5 separate regions of the Homo sapiens genome follow, and all the other regions are linked to region 4. The links come from fine-mapping of genetic effects on gene expression. A gene starts in region 4. Each other region holds a variant in brackets. All regions are shown on one strand. Distances are between the middles of the regions.

Region 1 (5,108 bases), 88 kb after region 4:
TTCTTTACAGCTTTGTTTTTGTGAAGCCTTCTCTGATCACACCAGGATAAACATTTATTTTGTGCCCATTTTTTTGTGAATTTGGGTTTTTAATTATTTAGCTATAGTTTTTTCTCACTTTATCGAGGCTTAATTGACAAATGAATTATTATGTACATTTAAACATGATGTTTTGATATCTGTGTACACTGTGAAATGTTTACCACGATTAAGTTAATTAACACTTCTGTCACCTCAGAGTTCTCTTTCATTTTTTGTAGTTTCATGGTGAGAACATTGAAGATCTACTCTCTTAGCAAATGTCATGTGTACAATACAGTGTTATTAAATATAATATAATGTCTCCATGCTGTACATTAGATCTCCAGAACACAGCCCTTAGTCATCCCATGAAACTGAAACTCCTTTGTGAATGGATTCTATCTCTTCCATAGCCTGCACTGATTTGTGTTGATTTATTTGTCTTTCTTACTGAACAATGAGCTGTTTGAGATCTGGGACCACGCTTTTTTTTTTATCTTTATATCCGTAGAGCCTAGAATAGTATCAGGCTCATCAGGGGCAGTAAAAAATTATTTATTGATTAATAATATTAAAAATTACTTTAATTATTGAATGCTGTTTGTTGAAAGGAACAGATGTTTGACTCCTTTACAGTATGTCCAGGGAGAACAAATATAAACAAATGAGAATAATTATTCCTTCTTTGTACTGTCTTCACTCTCCCTCTTCCTCTGCACATTCTGGCAGCTCACTCCCCACTTCAAGATAAACCCTGAAGCACTCCTAGGATTTAAGAGGATTGTTGGCATGAGGAGAACACAGAGACTTTGGATTCAGACACAACTGGGCCTTGGTCTTCTGAATTGTAAATGAAAATGATGATCCCTGCCTCAAAGAGCTGCTGTAAGAGGAGAGATGGTGTCAGGAAAGTGCCTGACCATCACCTAGCACACTTAGGGGCTCAATGTGCGTCCCTTCTCTCTTCCCTTCTTAGCCTTTGGTCCATTGAGGGGTAGATTAGCCATAGCCCTGTTGTCCTGTTGCCTGTCTTTTGGTCAACCCTTCTTGTCTTATGACTATTAAAACTTTGGACTCCTGGAAATAGAATAAAATATTTTAACTGCATTCGTCTGAAAAGCCATTGGGAATATTTTATGTTAAAAAGAGTGAGACAATAGCAAAGACATGGGATCAACCTAAATGCCCATCAATGATCGACTGGATAAAGAAAATGTGGTACATATACACCACGGAATATTATGCAGCCACAAAAAAGAGTGAGATCATGTTCTTTGCAGAGACATGGATGGAGCTGGAAGTCATTATCCTTAGCAAACTGATGTAGGAACAGAAAACCAAATACTGTATGTTCTCACTTATAAGTGGGAGCTAAATGATGAGAGCACATGGACCCATAGAGGGGAACAACAACACACACTGGGGCCTACTGGAGGGTGGAGGGTGGAGGAGGGAGAGGATTAGGAAAAATAATGAATGGGTACTAGGCTCAATACCTGAGTGATGAGATAATCTGTACAAAAAAAAAAAAAAAAAAAACCCCATGACACAAATTGCCTATGTAACAAACCTGCACATATACCCCTGAACTTAAAATAAAAGTTAAAAAAAAATTTAAAAGAAGATCATAAAGGAAAAAAATAAATTAAAAAAGTGAGAGATACTGACAGAATAATGAGACATCGAGAACCATGGAGTGCTACATTTTTGAAAGGGAGAGGAGAGAAGAGATGGGAAAGAAGTAAGATCAATTACATGTGAAGTGTTCTAATATGGAGAAGAGAAAGGGGAAGTACGGATTTCTTTTTCCTGATGAATCTCATTACCATGCAGCATGTAAATTTGAAACTCTGTCTCCTGGGTGACCAGGCACCATATTACTTTTGGTTTCGAAGGCTTTAGTTGTACTCCCCTTAATGGCAAAACACTCATAGGAGACGTGATTAATTCGTTCCCTGGTTATCCACTCTCCTCCTTCCTTAGTCTTCACCGAAACCAACATATCTAACATTTCTTCTAAAGCTTTTCCTTATAGAGAACATTTGAATGTAAACATTTAAAAATAGCATTCACTAGATCTGTTTGTGAAATGTGTGATAAGTTCTGTCTACACTGTTCTTTTGTATTCAGACCAGTTTTCATGAACGTTCACTTGACTGAACATGAGTTTATTACACACATTTAAAAGTTAGTTGTTTTTCTGTCTCCTTTTTCATATCCTCTTTCCATGCTGATCATGTCTAGAGCCTTTTAGATATTTACAGCAAATGCTTTATTTAATACTTCTGTCACTCACACAATCTTGATCTACAGGATAATGATTTCCTAAAACATTTTTGTTTTTAAAATAATTTCCCACTACCCTCTTTTTACCCATAACTTAAACTGTTGTTGCTTCCTCCCCCAAATCTTGACTACTAAAGTCTTTCAGAAACAGATATTGTCTCTTAGTCACATGTAAACACCTTCTTACCTTCTTTTCTACAATTCATTCATTCAACAAATACTTATTGAGCGCCTTCTATGTGCCTGGAATTGTTCCAGTGCTGGAGATACAGCAGTAAACAAAAACCTTTGCCTTCATAGAACTTACATCCTAGTGAGAAGACAGACAACAAAGAAATACACACACTCACACACACTCACACAATCAGACACTACCCAGAACAAATCCTATCTCTACTTTGAACAACGCCTTGTTCCCATCCTTTTGGAATAAATTGGGTGGAATAGGACACCCAATTTGAATACATTTCTTTCAACATTGAACTCCTGGAGACTTTCACATCTTTATCACTCATGTGGAATTTATTGAATGCTGCCTGGTATTGTGATTATTTTCCACATAACAAAATCTTCTTGCTTAAATTGAAACCCCAAGAGGGCTGGGTTC[A/T]TGACCTGTATTTCTCCCACCAGCCTTGTCCTAAAATTATGTATTTCAATAGTTGATGGTATCAAAAAGGAGCAAGGGATTAAACTTTGAAAATGTCAATAAGCGATTTAGAGCCAGCCAAATATTCTATATGTTTACCTGCTCTCCTTTTCATCCACCTATGAATGTAGAAAAATAACCTTAGAGCTTTGGATCCCACAGTAAATCCCTGTTTCCTGAGGTAGTTTTGCTAAAGTTTCTGCAGGAGAGGTAAAAGTTCTGCTGTCTTTAACCAAAAACTGATGCTCTGAGAATTAATTTTACCGGAGTTAATTTTATAATTTCCAAGTGTTTATTTCCATATGCATGAAATGAAATTTATTTAAGTACTGAAGCCCTTATTAATATAACCTGGCAGACTTCATGGGAAAGAAGTCCAAAAGAAATGCTTCTATTTATAGCAATAAGAAACTACAGTTCAGGAGTTCCCGGAAATTCTCTCTTTTTAATCATTCATAAGATTGCATTTCCTGGAGGTGTATCAGATATTTTCTCCTTCATGCCAAATGACTCCTTGTTCTTACATCAGGCAGCACGCTCTGTGAGACACACTCCTGCCTCTGTTTTGTAGGTAACTCTGAATAGTCACTCTATTCAGTGACGAAGTATTGGACTGACTGTTGGAACTGAGCTCTCCAATCTTACACCACCACCTTGCAATTTTAGAAAACAGGTGAACCTATCTGTGCTTCCTGCACTTCTAATTGACCTTCCTAGTATTGGTTTCTAATTTACTAAAATCTTAACTATGTATGTGACAATGTCCAATTTATTATTTTTTTTTTTACAAATAAGAGAAAGGGGTTAAGATGATCTCTCTGGGAAATACTAACTTTTGCTTAGAGATTTTATTAGAATGCATGGTGGGTGCATTCAATGATACATGATTAACCTCTCTCTTTTACTTAGCTGCAGCAAATATAATATTTAATTAGAAAGTATAAAACTTTTTGTACTTGTTAAAACGAATATAGAGCTTTGTAATTCTCAAATAGCAGTTGACAGGATTATTTTTCTATTCTTTTCTTCAAAATAAAAAGAAAATTCATCTGGACCTCAGTCAATTCTTCCCTCCCACCTTGTGCTTCAAGTAATACTTAAAGTTAAATAATTCCCAAACCCCCTAATTTACTGCTAGTGTAACAGATGCTCAATATGCATGAGTATATAACAAGTGATTGACCGGGCATGGTGGCTCACACCTGTAATCCCAACACTTTGGGAGGCCGAGATGGGCGGATCACTTGAGGTCAGGAGTTTGAGACCAGTCTGACCAACATGCTAAAACCCTGTCTCTACTAAAAATACAAAAATTAGCTGGGTATGGTGGGGAATGCTGGTAATCCCAGCTACCTGGGAGGCTGAAGCAGGAGAATCAGCTTGAGGCTGGGAGACAGAGGTTGCAGTGAGCCAAGATCGCACTACTGCATTCCAGCCTGGGCAACAGAGCGAGACTTCGTCTCAAAAAACAAAACAAAACAAAACAAAACAGGTAATTCACCTGCCTGGTCTGGCCTAGCCCCATTTTCTTGATTTCTTGACCCTCTGACACATTTGTTGTTTTAAGTTCCTTGTTCTCAAGAAGGTAACAAAATAAAAGCTGCAATCAAAGCTACTGTTTAATCTTAATATTGTCAGATCCTATTATAATGAACAAGGTGTGTAAGAAAATCTGCCCTCAGAAAGCAGGCTAATGTCACGGAGAGCAGTGTGGTAGATATTTAGATAAGGCAACAATTCTTTTTAATAATAAACAGAAGCATTTATTTGCATATCACTGGTTAATTGACAAAATTCTACTGGTAAAATGGAAAGGAACTAGCAGCAGTGTTGACTGCAAGTCAGGTATTAGAAACAGCATTGTGCTCCTTGGAACTCCACCTACTCAAAGTCCCACCCAGGCCTGTTCTGGAGACTTCTCTCATCATGCAAAAGAGCTAAAGTCCTTGGGCAGGGAAGCAGGTCTGTGGTCACAGCTGGGGTTGTAGAACAGCCTCCCAGCCCACACTGGAGTAACCAAACTGTCTGGAGTCCTGGAAACTTAGGTTCTCATTTCGTTCATTTTTAGACCTTCTGCCCAAAGTCATGTTTGGCCATAGATGGTGCCTCTTGATCTGTCTCTGCGTGACTGTGGCTCAGCTGAGAGCCTGTGTGC
Region 2 (5,108 bases), 85 kb before region 4:
TGAGAACACGTAGTAGGGAAGTAAACCTAAGTTAGGGGGTCAGGGAAGAAATCTTGAGGAAAAGACGAATGAGCAGAGATCTCAAGACTAAGTGGGAGCAAGAATTGCTCATGATAAAGTGCCACATTGTTGATGATAAACAGAAGTGTTACAACCTAATGTGATCATATAGCCATTCAGTGGAATGCCACCCAGCTATTATCATGATGGAGGTACTACCTTGGAAGCAAGTCCAACATGCATTGCTAAATGGTATAGCATTGTATTTTATATGATTCCATGTACATTAAAAATGTTCCATATGCATAGAAAAATGTTGGATGCACACACACATGTATATCCATTAGCATATATATTGATTGTTTGCAATGGGGGCTATGGTAGATTTTCACTTTCTACTTTAAGTATTTCTGCAATGTTTGAATTTTGTACAACTCTGTTATGTTTATAGTCATAAAAATAATAAAAGTAGTTTTTTTTTGAGACAAGGTCTCACTCTGTCACCCAGGCTGGAGTGCAGTGGTGCAATCATGGCTCACTGCAGCTTTGACCACCCCGGGCTCAGATGATCCTCCTGAGTAGATGAGACTATAGGTGCACTAGGTGCACACCACCATGCCCAGCTAGTTTTTTTTGTTTTGTTTTGTTTTTGGCAGACACAGGTTTCACCATGTTGCCTGGGCTGGTCTTGAACACCTGGGCTCAAGCCATCCACCCACCTCAGCCTCCCAAAGTGCTGGGACTACAGGCATGAGCCACCGTGCCCGCCTAATAAAAGTTATTTTTAAAACTATGGTCTACAGCTTACAATTGGCATGGGGAATGAAGTACCCACACACATATGCACACATAATACATTATGTGTTTCAAGTATGGATAATTCTGATGTTGGAGTATGTAGTCACCTCAAATGATATTTCAAAATATGCATTAAACCATGTGTTTTGAGACTATTTAGCATCATCATTATTAGTGAGTCTGAACTGATAAAACAAAAACCGCCTCTGATGGCACTAAATTTCAACTAAGTCTGGCTGGGAAGGGAGAGATTAGATTATTTCTTGAGATCTCCATCTTTTTCACCAGTTTCCTAAGGACTGTAGTTCATATGGCAAGACATTTTGTTAAAGGGATTGAAAACCTTCTGTAGGTCCAGTGAGCCATGGGCCTTAGAAACTTACCAGGCTCTCATCCTTCAACATTGCCGAGAGTTTGTTAAAACTACCATAGAGAATTGCTGGGCCCAGTGGGTCTCAAACTTTCATGTGTATAGGAATCACTGGGAAACCTGTAAAATAATGGATTCCCAGGCTCCACTTTGGATCTGCTGAATAAGAATTTTGGAGGAAGGCTCGGGATCTGCATTTTAACAAGGTCGTTGGTGATTCTGAGCAAAGGAGCCCTGGACCCCATGTTAGGAAACATAATCCCCTTTGAATCCAACCAATCAACCTCTGCCTTGACAAAGAGGGTGTTGCTGGTTTGAGACGAAGAAAATCCAAGAACAAGAAATCCTCTAGTAGAAATTTCCTTCCTAACGGATTTTGATGAGTAAATAAAAGGAGAATCTGAATCCTTTTGGCAGAAATGCTTTTCCTCTTTCCTTTTTCTCAGATTTTACAAAAGGCATCTCAATAATAGCGGTTTTAACTCCTCATCCACTTTCTTAGTGAACATTGGCTTATTAATTTAAAACAGTTCCTTTGTCATTGGATATAGTTAGCACCCTTCGTGTTCTTAGGACAGTTGTGTGATTATGTCACAGGGAACCCATTTTAATGGTGGGGTGTGGTGTGGAGGGGAAGTCCTGTCGGTAAAGAGAGAGCACTGTACTTTCCTGATCTTACACTGAAAATTATCAATGGTATAGTCACAACAGTGACCAATTTATAGAGGAGACCACTGCAGCCCTGTTATTATACCTATTTTTATCATTTAAATATTACCTAATATTTTTAAAAAATTCATATTTTTTAGTTTAAGAAAGAGTACATTACTTTTGTGACATTAAAATTAGTGAATTTATTTAAAAATGAATTAGATAACTGCATATGTAATAGAAATATTACTTTATAAAATTATATGACAAATACAAAATAATTATACTTAATACAAAGTCTGTGCCACCTGTGAATTTGCAAGCACAGAATCAATCAACTCATTTTTCTTTTTTTGAGATGGAGTCTCACTCTGTCACCCAGGCTGGAGTGCAGTGGCGTGATCTCAGCTCACTGCAACCTCCGCCCCCTGGGTTCAAGCAATTCTTCTGCCTCAGGCTCTCGAGTAGCTGGGATTACAGGTGTGCGCCTGACGTCCAGCTAATTTTTTGTATTTTTAGTAGAGAGGGGGTTTCACCACGTTGGCCAGGCTGGTCTCAAACTCCTGACCTCGTGATCCGCCTGCTTTGGCCTCCCAAAATGCTGGGATTATTAGGCGTGAGCCACCGTGCCCAGCCAAATCAACTAATTTTTATTACTTTCCACTCTCTTTCTTTTTCTCACTTTCAACAAATACTCAGC[G/A]AAGCAACAGGAAATATTGCCACCCTTTTCAGAAGGCCCGGATTTCCCATCATGACATAAAATGAGCAGGTTTGAAGATGGAATAATGTAAATGATTACGTTTTTCCTCCCCTCCAAATAATTATTTCTAATCCCGAGTAAATCTCCAATAAATATTTTAAAATAGCATTGCTTATTTGCCCTGATCCCAAAAGAAGTATGTATTCATTTTTTTTTACAGATTATTAGCCAGGTGTGGTGGTGCATACTTGTAATCCTAGCTACTCGTGGTGGCACATACCTGTAATCCCAGCTACTCGGAAGGCTGAGGCAGAAGAATTGCTTGAACCCAGGAGGCTGAGGTTTCAGAGAGCCAAGATTGCACCACCACACTCCAGCCTGGGTGACAGAGCAAGACACTGCCTCAGGAAAAAAAAAAAAAAAAAAAAGTCAGAAAAGTATAGAAAATAAAATTATTTACCATTATTAACGGTAATTAACAGTTAATTATTTTAATTTTATTTTCACTATCTAGAAACTATCTCACTATCTAGAAACTACACTATTTGGAAACTACAGTTAATGATTTAGTGCATTTCCTTTCAATTTTCATATTACTATACATGAAATTATATTTTATATCATAAAATTTATACAATTATGTTTTTTTAAATAGTCAATTCAATACCAAGAACATTTTACCAAGCCATTAAATATTCTTTGAGAATGAACTTTAAAATTGGGTCTCCAGTTTCCCACCATCTGGGGCTACCATAGTTTAAGTAACTCTTCCCCTATAGTTGGACTTCTCAGTAGCTTCCACATTTTTTCTAATAAAAATAGGATTAAAAATATTTTATTGGCTGCCCTCAGAGTTCTGTTTAGAGAGGAAATTATCTTTGTTCAGGAAACTTGCATGATGAACTGCTTTCATTGGTCAAGGAACTTTCAGAAAATGAATATCAAGTCCAATTTGAAGGTGTTTGTATTGTTGCGATTTAAAACACTCTCTCCTACCTCAACCCAACATAATGAGCTGCACTCCTTTGCTTTGTGTGAGAGGTTTGAGGGAGAATCAAGGAAAGGGTTTGAGTTATACGGGAGTCATGCATGAGATCGAATGTCTAGAGGTGAGCAGAAGTGACAGTGAAGTGTTAAGTGCCCAGGAATTTGCAGAAATATCAGAAAAGGGCGCTGTGCTTCCCTAAGGACATAGAACTAAAGGCTCAGGCCAATTTTATTTTAATTTTAAAAGGTCAAGATGACCTCAGCTGACATCTATGAAAGAAATAACACTGACAAAAGAGCACAAAGTTGGATTTTGTTGTTTTGATCCATTGGAGTGTCTTTGTCTTCTCACAGAGGAGATTTGAACACATACATGTATGTTATCTCGTGTCATGCTTTCGGTTAAAAAATACTCTTCATGCTCTTAGAATTTTATTTTTTATTTTTTACTTTAGTTATAATGACTATGTTGACTTTGCTCTTTACACCCTCCAGTGATTTGGAAGTCACATATTGTCATAGGTCAGGATCCCCAAGAAACAACCGGAGATCTGCACGTGGAGGTTTGCTGGAAAGTGTACTCCAGCGGCAGCATTTATAAGGAGGTGAGGGATGTAGGATTGAGCTGAGAGAGAAGTTGCCTCAGCTAAACTTATATGGAGCTCTGAGATTGAGATGGCCCTTCCAGAATGTTCCAAACTGAGGTGTGGGGGTGGAGGGGGTCGAGGGGCAGCTAGGTATATAATATTTATATTCCTGCATTGGCCAGGCATGGATGTGGGCTGTGCTTGGAGAGGGATCATGTTTTAGGAGCAAGAAAGCTCCTCCAATTGCAGACAAGTCCTGGGGAGGGACTCAGCTGTGAGCCTTCAGCAGGCAGCACTCCCAGCAGCTGGAGGAATAAATGCCTCCCTTCTGAAGATGGGATCTGAGCTTATTATGTTTCCATTAACACTTAAAGTAGAAGTGTTAGTAGAGTCAAAAATACCCAGACTTCTTTTCTCTCATTTTATTGTCAATAATTACATTATATTTTAACGTAAAGGATCATTGACTTGCTCTTGGGTCAAATGAAAAATGTAACAGGGTTTTATTCCTTTACTTCCCAGTTTGGGTTAATATAATCTGGCATTTTAGACTGACATAGTTAACAACACCATGTGGTTGTGTAGAAGCATTATTTTCCTTGTCTTTAAGAATGATGTTTGTCATTAATGTTGCATTTTATAACCATTCCAACATCTATATAGAGTATAGAGTTATCTCTGTCTCTATTGTTGCGATTTAGAACAATCTCTCCCACCTCAACCCAATACAAAGAGCTGCACTCCTTTGCTTTGTGTGAGAGGTGTGAGGGAGAATCAAGTCATAAGACTTAAATATGAATTTTCTCCACTATCTTGATATGAATGAATAAATGAATGAATTAACGCATGCATGCATGAATGAACAAAAAATGAAAGCCCCAGAGCTGAGGAGAATCACACCTACTTTGCTGTTAGCCCATAAGCCAACATTCGCAAACTTGCATTGATACTGCAAAGCCCATATTTTAAAAATCTGACTGTGAAAAGTTGCATTTTGCACTGATTTTTTCCCTTT
Region 3 (5,108 bases), 29 kb before region 4:
ATATTCACTCCATTCTAGCTAGTTAAAAAATCAAAACATCTCTCACCCCCATCTATGCTCTGGGAATTTTTTTTAGCTTACAGCTCCGTTGCAAGGCCTCATGGAGTTTTGCACTGCATATGGACAGCTTAGTAGTCAGCCAAAAGCTCAATAGAACTTTGTGTGGATTTGCAGGTTTCTGGAGCTCTCCACAGTTCCCTCTTCCCCAATTTTCTGCCCTGCAAACTCCATTTACCTCGACATTCCCAAATTCCAATCCCTCTCTCCTCAGCTCATGAAACTATTGTGGTCCACTTGGTTCCCTCTCACTGAAAAATGAGCTGACAATAGACAGATTAATAGGAGAAAGAGGAACGCAAATTTATTTAGTGTGCACTGAATGGGGGAATTGCAGGAGAATGATTACCCTATAACCCAGTGAGGACCAGATGTTATGCACCCTTCTTCACAGTGGTAGAGGAGAAAGGGATGTAGAAGTGAATGCTTCTCAGGGGAAATGAATGAGCCCAAAGAACAGGGCCTGAAACAAAGTTCTTCTGAGCTCTGGGGGGAAGTGGTGGGAAGGTGAGGAACAGAACTTCACTGTGAACAAAGATCGTCTTAGTATGCAGATAAAGCCTCCCAGGTAATCTCTCAGACCTGCCCTCAGGAAAATAGATGAAAAGTTTGTTAAGGAGTGGTAACTCCCAGTATCTTCTCTGGTAGTTAATCCTTCCTGGTTGTTTGATGTGATTCCTAGGAAGGAGGTCTTAAGACAACCGCATTCTTTTTAGAAAGAAACTTTCTTAATCAGATGGAAATTCCAAAGATAGTCACTCTTGGTGCTTAGGGAAAGTAAGCAGATCAGATAAACAGGCAAGCAGGGAAAGGTCAGAGAGAGACCTCGAGGCTACTTCCTTCATTCAGCCAGCATGTCAAAATGGTATTTTGGGGTACTGCTTGCTGAGCGTAATAGTTTTAATCTGTAAAGTGCCTCTAGGTGAAAACGATGATCATCAGTTTCACCATATTTGTTCTGCAATATCTAAAAACTGTTGTTTCAAATCCCATCAAAAAGTGGGCTAAGGACATGAATAGACAATTCGCAAAAGAAGCTATACAAATGGCCAACAAACATATGAAAAAATGTTCAACATCACTAATTATCAGGGATATGCAAATCAAAACCACAATGAGATATCATCTTACTCCTGCAAGAATGGCCATAATAATAATAATAAAAAAAATAGATGTTGGCATGAATGCAGTGAAAAGAGAACACTTTAACACTGTTGATGGGCATGTAAACTAGCACAACCACTATGGAAAACAGTGTGGAGATACCTTAAAGAGCTAAAAGTAGAACTACCATTTGATCCAGGAATCCCAATTCTGGGTATCTACCCAGAGGAAAAGAAGTCATTATGTGTAAAATATATGAATACGTACACATGCATGTTTATAGCACCACAATTAATAATTGTGAAAATATGGAACCAGCCCAAATACCCATCAATCAATGAGTGGGTAAAGAAAATGTGGTATATATATATATATATATATATATATATATATATATATATATATATATACACACTATGGAATACTACTCAGTCATAAAAAGGAATGAAATAATGGCATTTGCAGCAACCTAGGTGGAATTAGAGACCATTATTCTAAGTGAAGTAACTCAGGAATGGAAAACCAAACATTGTATGCTCTCACTCATAAGTGGGAGGTAAGCTATGAGGATGCAAAGGTGTAAGAATGATATAATGAACTTTGGGGACTCGGGAAAGAGTGGGATGGTGGGGTGAGGGATAAAACACTACACACTGGGTACAGTGTACAGTGCTTGGGTGATGGGTGCACCAAAATCCCGGAAATCACTACTAAAGAACTTATTCATGTAACCAAACACCACCTGTTCCCCAAAAACTCATTGAAATAAAAAAATAACCTCCCCAACCAAATAAAAACTGTTGTTTGTTGCAGATAATTTGCCCAATTTTCCAGTTGTTTATGACTAGTTCTGTATCAGGTTCTCTGTCATGGCTCAAAGAAGAAATATATATTTTCTCTTGGTTTCATCATTGAGCCACAGAATCACATAAAAATGACCTATACCGTGGGCTTTTTAGATATATGATCCAATAAAATTCTTTAAGACAGTATCAGTTGGATTTTTCTCCTGTCTACAACCAAAATGTGTATAAGTGGGACTCTATATAATGACTTGGATTTGCTGCCAAAAATGGAAATATTTAGTATTCTACCATTTTACCTATGTTCTTTTTTCAAATTGATCTTTATCAATGCAAGCAGTGCTCTAATTTAGTTGTCACCTTCTACACACATTTACTGAATACCTAAATATAATTTAGATGCTATGCTAGAAATGAAGAGAGTAAGGGTAAAGAGCTTCCTGCTCTCAAGACATTATCAGTTTATTAAGGAAAATCTGCATATAAGCAAATAAAAACAATACAGTTTGTTTTGGGTTGAATCACATCCCCCAAAAAGATATGTTGAAGTCCTAACCTCTGGTACTTGTGAATGTGATTTTTTTTTTTTTTTCTGAAATAGGGTCTTTGCAGAGGTAATCAAGTTAACATGAAGTCATACTGGATTAGGGTAGGCCCTAAGCTGATGACTAGTGTCCTAATAAAATGGGGGGAAATTTGAACACAGATGCAGAGAGGATAATACCATGTGGAGAGAGGAGAATGCCATGTGGAGACAGAAGCACAGAGACACACAAGGGAGAAGATCACATGAAGACAAAGGCAGATATTAGAGTGATGCATCTACATGCCAAGGAATACCAGAGATTGCCAGAAACCACAAAAAGC[T/C]AGAAAGAGCCGAAGGAAGGACTTGGAGAGCCTTGAGGAGAACAAGGACGTGGCTACACCTTGATTTCAGATTTCTAGCTTCCAGAACTATGAAAGAATAAGTTTCTCTTGTTTTAAGCCATCCAGTTTATGCTACTTTGTCACAGTAGCCCTAGAAAACAAATATACAGTTTTGTGTATACAATGGTGGAGGTACATAGTAAAGCAGCAGCTACTAGGAGGGATTAGAAGGACCTGTTAATAGATTTTTATCTAGGTACTTTGTATCAGTCAGGACAAGCTAGTCAAGGAGGCAGAGCAGAAAAATATTTGAGGAAATATGGCCAAAAATTTCCTTAAATGGATTAAAGTCATGAACCCTCATATCCAAGATTCCCAAGTCTCAGTAACTGAAGACAACAAAGATTTATTTCTCATGCACACAAAGTTCACTGAGGCTCTGGGAGATCTGCCTCAGCTTTTTAAGACAATGTCACACCATTCTCGGTATGGTCCCCAGTGCAGGACTCTTTAGAAGAGCAGTCTTTGCTTCAGAGTTTTGTCTTTTGGTGGCAAAGACCCTGCCCTGTCTGTACTGTGGTCTGATGGCTCCTGCTGCCCAGTCCTGCTTTCTCCCTTTTGCCTTTTGTAACTTTTACTTCATAATTAAAGGTTTACACCCCTAACTCTATCACCACAACTACTTCCTGGAGAATCTAATGTGTGACATGTCCCTTCCTTTTTCACCCCATCATCATGGAAGGAACTTGGAAATCAAAGTTAAACAAATTGAGAAAGGTCATTTCCCCACTTTTTGGCTCACAAAGAAGTATTTTCCACTAAATTCAGAGCACATTTTAATGAAAACAGGCCTAGGTAGGAGGCAAATATTCATTTAGCATAGTAAGAGGCTGTCTTAGTCTGTTTTGTGTTGCTATAAAGAAATATCAGAGACTGGGTAATTTATTTAAATAAAAGGTTTATTTGGTTCATGGTTCTAATGACTGCAAAGTTCAATATTGGGCATCTACATCTGGTGAGGGCTTCAGGCTGCTTCTATTCATGAAAGAAGGTGAAGGGGAGCTGCATGTGCAGAGGTCACATGAGAAGGGGGGATGTTCCAGCTTTTTAACAACCAGCCCTCATAAGAACTAATAGAGTGAGAATTCATTCACCTCTGAAAGAAAGCATTAATCAATTCATGAAGGATCTGCCCCCATGATCCAAATGACCCCCATTAGCCCCAACCCCAATGTTAGAGATCAAATTTCAATATGAGGTTTAGAGGGGACAAACACCCAAACCTTTGCAAGGGTATTATTTTGTAAGACAAATGGCCTAAGTCATAGTAATAGGAGGAAAAGGCTGTCATTGGTCTTCAGAAGAATATGAATTCTTAGTGGAGTCAGAGGAAGCCAGCTGTGGCCTATCCCTGGGGAGAGAGAGAGTTCAAATGGTCTTGCTTAACATTTGCCTCTTTTTCTTCTTTCAGAGCCAGGCCACAGTCGGGCAGAGGAAAACCCATCAACACCCAAGTGAGGATTTTGTTGGCAGATTTTATAAACCCAAAAAGACCTGAGATTAAGGTTCTTTTATTTTGTGGGATAATATTCGCCCAAATTGGCCATATAAAGAGATCTTAGCCCCCAAAATCCCAACCAACAGTTTTCTGGTGCTGTGCTACTTTAGGCTGTTTACTAGAACACCCGAGTAATATTTTCATTTTTTATTTTTTCAAAGGTTGCTTTTTTTTCCATCCCAGTTCAGTGTGTTTAATCTGGGGAGAAAAACACATGGCAGTACTTAGAAAGGGGTTGCTTCTGTTCCTAGCACTTGGCTGCTCTTTGTCTGAGCTTTTGTACCAACAGAGAGAACAACTGTCCAACTTTCTCTTAATGCTCCTTCCCTCAAAAGGGCCATGTTTAGTGCAAGGAGAAGGGATCCTTGTTGTACTGGTGATACATACATCTGTCTTTGCGTCTAGGATTTCTTTGGTGCAAACTGGTCTAATTTTATGAACCTCAGTTGTTTGCTTATTTTATAAAGTAGTTTCTCAAAGTCTGAAGTATGAGTCTCATAAAACTCAAAATGCTTCCACAAACCCCTTGGGCTAAGGTACCATGCTATCTTCCCAGCCACATCTCCTGCCCCTTCTTATGGGCTCCATCAGCTCATGTCATGATAACTTTCTTGCCGTCTACAAAATGTATTTTGTCAATATTATTTCCTCTACTTGAAATGAGATATACCCGTTGTCAACCTGGCTAAAATGTGATCATTTTGTGGAATTCAGCTTAA
Region 4 (5,108 bases):
ATGAAAAGGAGAATAAGTCTAGGATGCCTGTCAGACTTGGTGGTCTGTTTGGGTAGAACACCTGTTGGTACCCCTAGATAAATGGAAAAACATGTCTATACTGGGAAAATGATGAGTTTAGGTGGGTAGTGTTGATGACTGAAGTGCCTGTGGGTATCCAGGTGGAACTGTGTAGCAAGTAGGATATATGGGTCTAGAGTTCAGTACCGGAGTCTGATGAGGAGCTACATATGTGCAATAGTTGAAGTCACAAATATAAATAAGATCACCTAGAAAAGCATATAGTGTGAAAAGAGAACAAGGGACAGATCCCTGGGAAATTTCAACATTTAAGATTCTGTAAAAAAACCACAATAGGGCATATATCCCTATAAAATCCCAGCTACTCAGGAGGCTGAGTCAGGAGGATTCCTTGAGGCCAGGAATTCAAGACAAGCCTGGGCAACATAGATAGACCCTGTTGTATAGAAAAGATCTTAAATGATGGTCATAAAAGAAAGTAGGAGGAAGATCAAGAGCAAGTAGTACCAAGGAAACCAAGAAAAGAGTTTCAAGAATGAGGTGTCATTGAGTATTATATACAGCAGCAATGTCAAGCAAGATGAGGGCTAAGAAGCATCCAATGGATATGGATAGTTTTAGTGCTGGGATGAAAACAGGTCACTATAGTCTGAAGAGTGAATAGGAAGTTAAAAATATGTAAGTATCTAATGCTGGCTACTTTTTTTGAAAAGTCATGACCAAGAAGAGAAAGAAAACAATAGGATAATAGTTAGAAGGAACAACAACATCAAAGGGATTTTATTTGTTTTTGCTTTTTAGATGAGGCATGGGAGGGGCTTCAACATAATTATATACCAACAGGAAAAAACGTGGAAGACAGGGAGAGGCTGAAAATACAGGTGTATATTATTCAAGGTCCAATCATATAACACTTGATGACGCTTATATTCTTGAAACTCCCTCCTTAGTTTCCTTGATGCTACTTGGTCTTAATCCTTTTCCTACTTTCATGACCATTACTTAAGATCTTTTCTATACAGAAGTCACACCGGATATTTGACCATGGAAAACTGAATACAAATAATTGTTATAAAGCTGTTTATCAGGCAATTTAAATGGTGAGAAGAGAACATAAGATATATAAAAGTAGCAATTATAAGAAGCATCTATCATTCTTAGGACTGGGAGACCAACAGGGGCCGGTAGGAGACGGAATTTGCAAAGTCTAAGAGGAGAGGGAGAGACTTTTTGCTAAAGGCAATCAAAAAATATTTTATGAAGATGGCATTTGAGCTGGGCTTAATTAAGTGGAAATGAGAGAATATTTCAGGTATTGCACATGACCTGGGAAATAGAAGCTACTTTATAAATATTTGTTGAAAAATGAAGTGATGAACAGATAAGCAAGAAAATCTAGAGAAAAGTGTGGAAAATTTCGGGAACAGTAAGTTTGGCTGGAGCTTGGATGGTGGAGATCGGTTGAAAATGTGGTTGCACAGATGGAGTAGAGATGGAGCAGACGGTCTTAAATTCCAGGCCAATGTGTTGAAAATTTATCTTAGGAAGCCGCTGACATTTGAGTAGGGAAGTGACAAGACTGGAACGATGATTTCTGGATGGCCGATTTGCCTGTGATACGTAGAAAGAACTGTAAGCAGAGAGCAACTGAATTTCTCAGCCAGAAGGCCAAAAAATGACGAGCTGGATTGAAGTGACAATAAGGATATGAGAAAGGGAACAAGCAGGAAACAAAATGTAAGCCGCCAAGAAGTGGCTGAAGTGATGACTGTGGTTGGGGGGCATGGGAGGAAGAAGGGAAATTGAAGCTCCTTCTGAGTCTAGGCAATTGGAAGAATGGCAGGAAGAGGAAAGAAAGAGGAAGAGAACGGGGCTTTGAAGGGCCATGAGAAGTTCTGTGGAAACGGATTGGACATCCTAGTGCAAAGAGATGTGGCAGTGCAGGTCTGCAGCTTAACGGAGCCTGGGCAGGAGGTGGCTGATGTGGGTTTCATCTGCATAGAGATTCCGGCTGACGCCTCTATTTGGAAGAATGCAATAGTATTTGCGTATTTGAACCCACAGCCAGTCCTTGGGCCAGAAACTGAGGCTGAACTGCCTCTTGATTTACAGCTTCCACCCCCAGTTTCCATTCTCCCCTAAAGCACTGGATTCAGGTAATCGCGGACGCACTTGGCTCCTCCCGCACTGGCCGCTGCCCTCGGCGGGACAATGGGCGCCCTAGCAGCCCCGAGCGTTCCCAGGGCGCAGGCGCGGCGCGGCGTGGCGTCGCCTAGCAACGAGGCACAACAAGGGACTGGGGGTTCGTCTGCTGGGTTTGCGGAGCAGCTAGCTACTCGGCGGGATCTCCCGGCAGGTAAAGGTAACCCCGTGGGGTGGGGAGGCCCAAGGCAGAGGCCTGAGGAAAACCTGGGAAAGGAGAAGGTGCCACGTGGGCGCAGACTGCTTGGGTCAGTGAGGCAACACCTTGCTGGGCGTTGTTAGTTTCTGCCTCGCGCCCGCAGGGTTAGACGGGGCTTGGGGTGGGTTTCGTAAGCATCCCGCCACCTCCCATTCAACAGGTGACAAAACTGAGGCCCGAGAGGGGATCTGAGGTGAGATCAAGTCAGATTCCGTTACTTGACTGTGAGCAACTCAGAAGTGGCCTCGATTTCTTGAGCCCTCCTCCTCTTTAAATCTTCTCAAAGCAGAACTCATTAGAAAATATTTAAAATCATAGGCTGAACGTTCACGAAGAACAAATACAAAGGACCAATCAACTCGTGAAAAAAAAAATGGCTCCAGTAGTCAAGAAGATGCATTTTTAGAGCAGAGTTGTTTGCATATCCAATGCCCTGAAGTTTTCACCCAGTTAATTTACTGCTAGAGATTTATCCTAAAGAAATAGTTGGGGATAATGGATGAAAATTTTATGTCCAAGGACGTTCTTTCAGCCCTGTCCATATTTCCAGAAAATTAGAAACAAATTTCAACAATCAGAGACTGGCTAGATAGCTAAGGGATTTTAAAATATTTGTAATGGCATGTTATGCTAATCCACTGGAGATTATTAAAGCAATGAAGGGAAACTGAGACTTCATGAATTTATTTGTTAATATAAGAATTTAGTAGGAATATGAACCCAGGAAGGGAAGGTGAAAGTAGGGGATAGAAGTTGAGGCAGGATGTTAAAATCACTTTAGAAAAACACACAAAGCCAGGTACGGTGGCTCACGCCTACAACCCCAGCACTTTGGGAGGCTGAGGCGGGTGGATCGCCTGAAGTCAGGAGTTCGAGACCAACCTGGTCAATGTGGGGAAACCTGTCTCTACTGAAAATACAAAAATTAGCCGAGCGTGGTGGCGGGTACCTGTAATCCCAGCTACTCAGGAGGCTGAGGCAGGAGAATCTCTTAAACCTGGGAGGTGGAGGTTGCAATGAGCCAAGATCAGGCCACTCTCCAGCCTGGGCAACAGAGTGAGACTCTGTCTCAAAAAAGAAAAAGAAAAAGAAAAAAAGAGAAGAGAGAGAGAGAGGGAGAGAGAGAGAGAGAAAGAGAGAGAGAAAGAGAAAGAAAAAGAAAAAGAAAGGAAAGGAAAGGAAAGGAAAGGAAAAGAAAAGAAATAGTATTGATCTCTCTGAGCTTATCTTTGGGTGATTTTTATTTTATTCGTTGTGCCCTTGTTTTCCAAATTCTCCACAGTGAAATGTATTACCCTTGTAAGGATCATCTCCATAGCTCATTGCCACCGACCTATGTCAGCTGTTCAGTCTCTCCTCCATTAACTATCATACCCAATATGGTGATAAAACACATAGGCTTTTTTTGGGGGAGGAGACAGAGTCTCGCTCTGTCACCCAGGCTGGAGTGCAATGGGGTGATCTCAGCTTATTGCAACCTCCGCCTCCCGGCCTCAAGCAATTCTCCTGCCTCAGCCTCCCCAGTAGCTGGGAATGCAGGCACATGCCACCGCCACTCCAGGCTAATTTTTGTATTTTTAGTAGAGACAGAGTTTTGCCATGTTGTCCAGGCTGGTCTTGAGCTCCTGACCTCAGGTGATCCACCCGCCTCAGCCTCCCAAAGTGCTGGGATTACAGGAGTGAGCCACCACGCCGGGCCATGATAAAACACATAGGCTTTTAACTTCATTCTTTAGCTTAGGAGACACTCTATCATTGCAATACTGTCTGTGTAAGCTCTTCTAACCTCTGCACTATGCAATTGCTCAAAAACACTATCCTGAAGTAGGAAAAATTAGTTCCTAAGTGAAAATCAGATGATTTAAAACAACTTTATGCAGGTGTAATTAAATTGCTTCCTGAATATTATTCATAAGCAATTATTTTATAAATCAAAGGCTGCTCTGTCTTGGAATTGGTTATAGAGTGCTATAAACTCTCTCTTTTTTTTTTCCTAGAGATTAATTGTAGGATAGATTCTCATTTGCCCAGAATAGTTTCTGCCTCTCTGCCTGAAATATTATAGGCACAAGGTCTAGGGCCTGTTCACTTTTCAAGCACCTAAGGAAGATGTTTGAGATTTGAAAAAAATGCTTATATTGGCTCTAAAATATGAAAAGAGAACTGAAAAATTAGTGTTAATTAAATGTTTTATTAATATAAATTTTTATTACATTTGAAAACAATTTTCTCATTTTACAAGAATTTCCAGGTGTATGTACTGATTGCTGAGTAATTTCAAATACAAATTTCAAAAGTTTTTATGATGCAAATGACATTTAATGGGCGATGCAGGCACATTTTAACATTTTAATATATTGGCTATTGTGTGAATAAGCTTGCCCAGGCCCTCCAAAGTCTTAAAAGTAGTGTGGTCTGAAGTTAGAGACCTAGAATAAATGCCTTTCAGAAGTATCTAGGAGTTTCTATGAAGACGTGGCTTTTTAATGTATGTGATAAATTCTGGTCAGTGTCTCTAATGCTAGGAGTTGCTTTTGACCCTTGACATGCAATTTGAGCTAACCCTGACACTGTAGATTCTCCCCAAGGATTTTCTACTTCCTAGGATTTCTACTGAGACTATGGTAATTTCCTTAAGGCTATGATATACCGTTTAAGATTGCTCCTACGATATACCGTTTAAGAT
Region 5 (5,108 bases), 250 kb after region 4:
GATTTAACTTGAACTTTCCAGGTAGGCCTGCCCTCTCCTTGTCTATCTTCCTGTGCAAAGAAGGGCCTGAGCCCAGGCGCATTTAGCAGCTGTTCCTGGTTAAACAGCAGTGTGGCCTTCTCACTGACCTCTCCCAACGCCACAGTCGCTCCCTGCCCAGAAGAAACCACGGAAGGTACGTTAGCTTCTTTGGGCTGCACCAACAGCTATGCCTTTAGTGGGTCACTCCTGTACCCGTCTGTGTCCCGAAGGCCTGACAAACCAAGAAATTTAGCCCCCCACCCCCACCCCCTCAAGCTGGCTTCTAAAGCAAAACCTTAAAATGCTTTTTTTCCTTAGGGAGGAAATTGTCAATGGAGTTTACTCTCTAGGTAAGCCCCAAAAAGTCTTCACACGGCGGAAATACTGAAAAAGAAAAATAGCACAAGAAATACGGCTATAATATTAAGACAATTTTAAAAAGAACAAGTGGTGTTTAATAATACTCAGGGCCAACTTGAAGAAAAGATGAGGGAGACAGAAATGTTGGGTGTGTCTAAAGGGAACTTCAAAAGGTTTTAGAGCTTGTCTGTCTTGCCTAATATTAGCTGGAAATTTCCTTTCCCTTAATGCAAGGCCACCACCCTCATTACTTTTATATGTGTCATCAATTATTAGGATTCGTTTTTGACCAGATAAAAGAAAATGATTTTCTTAAAGTAATAGAGAAGTTGGTCCAGGAATAAGGCAGTTGGCCAAGGATAAGGAAGATGGGTGTGTGTCTGAAAAGGACTGTTTGCAAGGAGAATAAAGGGGAGAAAATAGATTCCTCACAGGGTGAAAGTCTTTCCCATCTGCAAAAATAACGGAAAAGTCACCCCTGACCTTTCTTTTATCACATTCACAACTCTACTTCTTAATAAGTTCCTCCAGATAGGGGTCTCAATCAAGTTCATTGCCTTTATTCAGTCTTCATCAGTCTGCACCCCAATCTCACATTGAAACTGTTTTTAATCATTTTACCAGCAATTTCCATGTCCCCCAATTTAGGGCCAATTTACAGACCTTAGTTTGCCTAAAATTGCAGTAACAGGCCCACCATTCATCCTGATGGCAAAAGCAGAATCCTTAGTATCATCTTTTCCTTCTCTCTTTTTCCAATTCCCACATTCAATAAGTTCAGAAATCCTAGTAATTCTTTCCAAAATCTCTCTCCAATCTGCCCAGTCACCACCCAGTTCAGTCCTTCACAATATCCCAGCTGTTCTGCTGCCACGGCCTTCTGCTCAGTCTCCCTGCCTGTAGTCCTGCCTTGCTTCCATCCATTCTCCACAGCGAAGCCCCAAGCACCCTTCGTAATTGGTAAACTGGATCATGCTATCCCCCTGGGTAAAACCGTTTGTCGGCTTTCTATTCCCAAATTAATTATAGGTAAGTTATAAAGATGTGCTGCTATACGAGTCAGTTATATATATTATAAAGAATGCATAGGACACACAATTTTTCTAAAAAAAGATAAAAAATGTAGATGATAGTTCTGATAGTTTCTTCCTATACCCCTATAAGGTTTATCCAATCTGCAAATGACTATCTATATGATGCCCATCTCCATAACACAGTTTACAAGGTCTTCTTTGATCTAGATCCCATCTACATTTCCATCCTTACCATCCCTCTTTACTTCATCCTTAATAAAATCCTTTTTTAAATAAAATTTTTTATTTCTTCAAATTTCATGATGATCATTCTGTTTCATGTTACTGTCTACCTCTAATCCTCATTTTCAATCCTCCATATGCCCCATGGAAAAAAGGATATGTTGTACCTACTGTTCTGTTGCTAGTGTTTAATGCTAGCAACAGACAGAACAGTACATAGAAGAGATATTCCAAGCACACTTCCCAGCACACAACAGGTGCTTAATAAATGTGTGTTACAGACATGAACATCGTGCTTCTTTAAGGCAGCCACGTTTTCTATGAAATAACTCAAAATCAGAGAAAGCTGATCCATAGAAAATGAAAAGGATGAAGATGTGCAGAAGGAAAGAGAAAGAAGCACAGGAAAGACAGAGACAATGTCCAGGCATCTTTCTAGATCATGATGTGTTGACTAGTGTACAAGTTTAGCTGCTCTACTGTAAAAAGTTTACAAATATGAGATACAAGTTTATTTACTTCTCATAGAGACAAAACAAAGCTGGATAGGTATTCCAGGCTTGGTATGGGCTCTAAATGATGTGGGGGACTTCAGTTCCTCTTGTGTATTTGCTCATCTATCCTCAACGTGTAGCTTTCAACTCATGGTTCATAGTAGCTGCTCCAACTCCTCCTGTTGCCTCAGCATCCCAACCAGTGGAAAGAGGGGAAGTGACAATATAGGACATGTCTTTCTCCTTCAAAGACTGAGTCTCAAAGCTTGGCCTCATTTCTGGTCACAACCCATTACTTAGAAATTAGTTTCATAGCCACACAGAGCTGCCATGGTGAGCAGGAAATGTAGTTTTTATTCTGGGTAGCTATGTGCCCAGCTAAAATCCTGGAGTGCCATTATGAAAGGAAGGAGAAAATAGCTATCAGGGGAGAATCTTCAGTTTCTACAACACTTGGCACTGCTGCCTCCTGAGGCCTCACT[G/A]CATTCCTGCTATCAGATTCTAGGAGATGCTCTGTATCCCATGATGTATCCCCCTTTTAATGTCTAACTTAGTTCAAATTGGCTTTCACTACTAAAACCAAAAGACTGTAAACAAATCCACAAAGGTACTGAGTCTCTATGCAATGACACTAGGTGCAGAATGCTACATGCACCAACCTAGGTATGTCAGGTGGGCTAGGTTTTGCTGCAGTAGCAACCCCCAAATCTCAGCAGCTTCACACAACAAAAGTTTATTTCTGGTCCAGGTTACCCGTTCTATGAAGGTTTGCGGGGGAACTTTGTTCATCAGAGTCACTCCAGGTCCCCAGCTGACAGATGTCCTGCCCCAAGGTGTACGTCCACAATCATTACAGAATATGGAGGCAAAAGACAAACTGTGCACTGGCTCTTAAAACTTCCTCCCAGAGGTACCATGTCATTTTCACACATCTTTCATTCACTGAGCATGTCATATGGCCACATTTCACCTTGAAGAGGGTAGAGAAGTGTAAGCTATCATCTGCCTGGACGAACTAGAGAGTATCTGTGGTTTGCTCCACTGGCTCCCACAACCTAGGTATGGTGGAAGCTTTTCCGGTTAATTTTTATTTTTGTAAAGCATCCAGAAATTATAAAATGATCTACCTGTACCTTCCTTTCTTCTCTGCTCAAACTTGTCCAGCTGAAGAAGAAATGTACTCTCTAAGTCCTGGAGACCTCCAAGGCCAATGACAACATAATTCCCTCACATCATTTTAAATTTGAGCAGGGAAATATTATATAACAGATGATGCATTCTCAGCTTTGGTTCCATCTGGGACATCCCTTAACATTTTTAGGAGTCTCTGCATATATTCCTAGCACCATCTTGGATTTCTACAATGGGTTTATACTCAGGTGTAGTAGATAACAAGCTTCTGAAAAAGAAAAAAGGCCAGGATCAGGAGTGTGTAAGGATACAGAAAGACATTCTACCATGAGGTGCACACAGGGAAATCTGTTTCTAGGGCTGGCAAAGGCTAAATAAAAGTGAGATTCAGTGGACACGAGGAAATCTCTGTCTACCCCCGAAATGCCTTCAAATGACTGCACTAAGGCTCAAATGCCAGATTCAAAAAAATCCCTTCCTGTGATTTACGGCATTACCTTTCAAGAACCCTAATCAAATGCTGGGGAGGGAATGATGTGGTTGCTCTGTGTTGCCCATACCTTAGGGGAGCAGATGTTTTCCTTTATGGCCTCTAGCTGAGACCAATGGCCCTGAAGTAATTGGCTTCTAAAGAGGGCAAAAAGGATAATTTGGAGCACTGGGCATTCTTTGAAGACATAGGTCTTGGTGGGGCATCCATGTGTTCACCATGAGGCCACTCCATGCCTGGGATGAGGCTGGGCTGTGGAGGCAGGACTAAGAAAGTAGATGCAAAAAGGCACACTGGAAGGTGCAGAACGCAGGCTGTGCTTGGGGCTGAGCCCCTAACATCCCATGGATTTGCTGGGGATATCCATGGGCTATTCACAGCTCTAGGCTTTTGTAAATATGTTCAACCTCCCAGAAGCACATTTCTGCCCCTCCTCTTGTGGTCATTATTTCCTCAGGACTGGCTTAGCTCAACATTGTTCCTTTTTTTTTTTTTTTTAACCCCCCGAGATAGAGTCTTGCTCTGTTGCCCAGGCTGAAGTGCAGAAGCACAATCTGAGCTAACTGCAACCTCTCCCTCCAGGTTCAAGCAATTCCCCTGCCTCAGCCTCCCGAGTAGCTGGGATTATAGGCACACACCACCACCCCCAGCTAATTTTTGTATTTTTCATAGAGATTAGGTTTCACCATGTTGGCCAGGCTGGTCTCGAACTCCCGACCTCTCTGCCTGCCTCAGCTTCCCAAAGTGTTGGGATTACAAGTGTGAGCCACCACTCGTGGCCAACATTGTTCCTTTTTTGAAGCTCTCTCTGTCCCCTCATTCTTATACCGACTTATGCCTCAATATAGCCCTCACTGAACCGGATCATAATTACTCACTCCTGTCTTTACTACACCAAGAACGTGCTAAGGGGCAGAGACTGCACATATTCATCTCCGTATTTCCACATACATAACACAGTCACCTGAACATGGTTGATGCTCGAAACACATTCCTTAAAGCAATAAACTAAAACAGCGTGATTTGACATTTTCTCAGTATTTCTGTGTTTATAGCTTCATATATAATTATGAAAAACAACAAGATTATTCAGCTTAAAAAATACCTAAGTAGTCAGATGTGGTGGTTCATGCCTGTATTGCCAGCACTTTGGGAGTACAAGGAGTTCGAGACCAGTCTGGACAACATGGTGAAACCCCATCTCTACAAAAATTAGTCTGGTGTGGTGACACATGCCTGTAGTCCCAGCTACTTGGGAGGCTGAGGTGGGAGGATGGCTTGAGCCCAGGAGGTGGAAGAGGCAGTGAGTCATGATTGCGCCACTGCACTCCAGCCTGGGTGACAGAGTGAGACTCT

Alleles and levels. Positions count from the first base shown, and alleles are read on the strand shown. Sizes are in standard deviations (SD) of each study's normalised expression. Not every link is listed here.
For the expression in pancreas of the gene that starts at base 2,324 in region 4, allele A in region 5 goes with a lower level than allele G (small effect, 0.29 SD a copy in GTEx).

The links. PIP is the estimated chance that this variant, and not a neighbour inherited with it, causes the effect.
Region 1: its variant is the best candidate, but not a certain one, in a credible set for the expression of ARMC3 in whole blood (TOPMed, PIP 0.89).
Region 2: its variant is the best candidate, but not a certain one, in a credible set for the expression of ARMC3 in blood mononuclear cells (TOPMed, PIP 0.75).
Region 3: its variant is the best candidate, but not a certain one, in a credible set for the expression of ARMC3 in whole blood (INTERVAL, PIP 0.54).
Region 5: its variant is the best candidate, but not a certain one, in a credible set for the expression of ARMC3 in pancreas (GTEx, PIP 0.55).

Annotation. Positions count from the first base shown.
Region 1 is chr10:23,013,350-23,018,457 of GRCh38, forward strand. The region is part of intron 16 of ARMC3 (armadillo repeat containing 3); the gene reads left to right. All of the region lies in intron 2 of LOC107984215 (a long non-coding RNA gene), which reads right to left. Among named protein-coding and RNA genes, the nearest start is that of MSRB2, 80 kb to the right of the region's middle. The variant A/T (reference allele first, on the strand shown) is at 2,915.
Region 2 is chr10:22,840,904-22,846,011 of GRCh38, forward strand. No RefSeq gene overlaps it. Among named protein-coding and RNA genes, the nearest start is that of ARMC3, 85 kb to the right of the region's middle. The variant G/A (reference allele first, on the strand shown) is at 2,520.
Region 3 is chr10:22,896,804-22,901,911 of GRCh38, forward strand. No RefSeq gene overlaps it. Among named protein-coding and RNA genes, the nearest start is that of ARMC3, 29 kb to the right of the region's middle. The variant T/C (reference allele first, on the strand shown) is at 2,832.
Region 4 is chr10:22,925,730-22,930,837 of GRCh38, forward strand. ARMC3 (armadillo repeat containing 3) reads left to right here and starts at 2,324. Exons shown (of 19, transcript NM_173081.5): 1 at 2,324-2,377.
Region 5 is chr10:23,175,192-23,180,299 of GRCh38, forward strand. No RefSeq gene overlaps it. Among named protein-coding and RNA genes, the nearest start is that of PTF1A, 15 kb to the right of the region's middle. The variant G/A (reference allele first, on the strand shown) is at 2,614.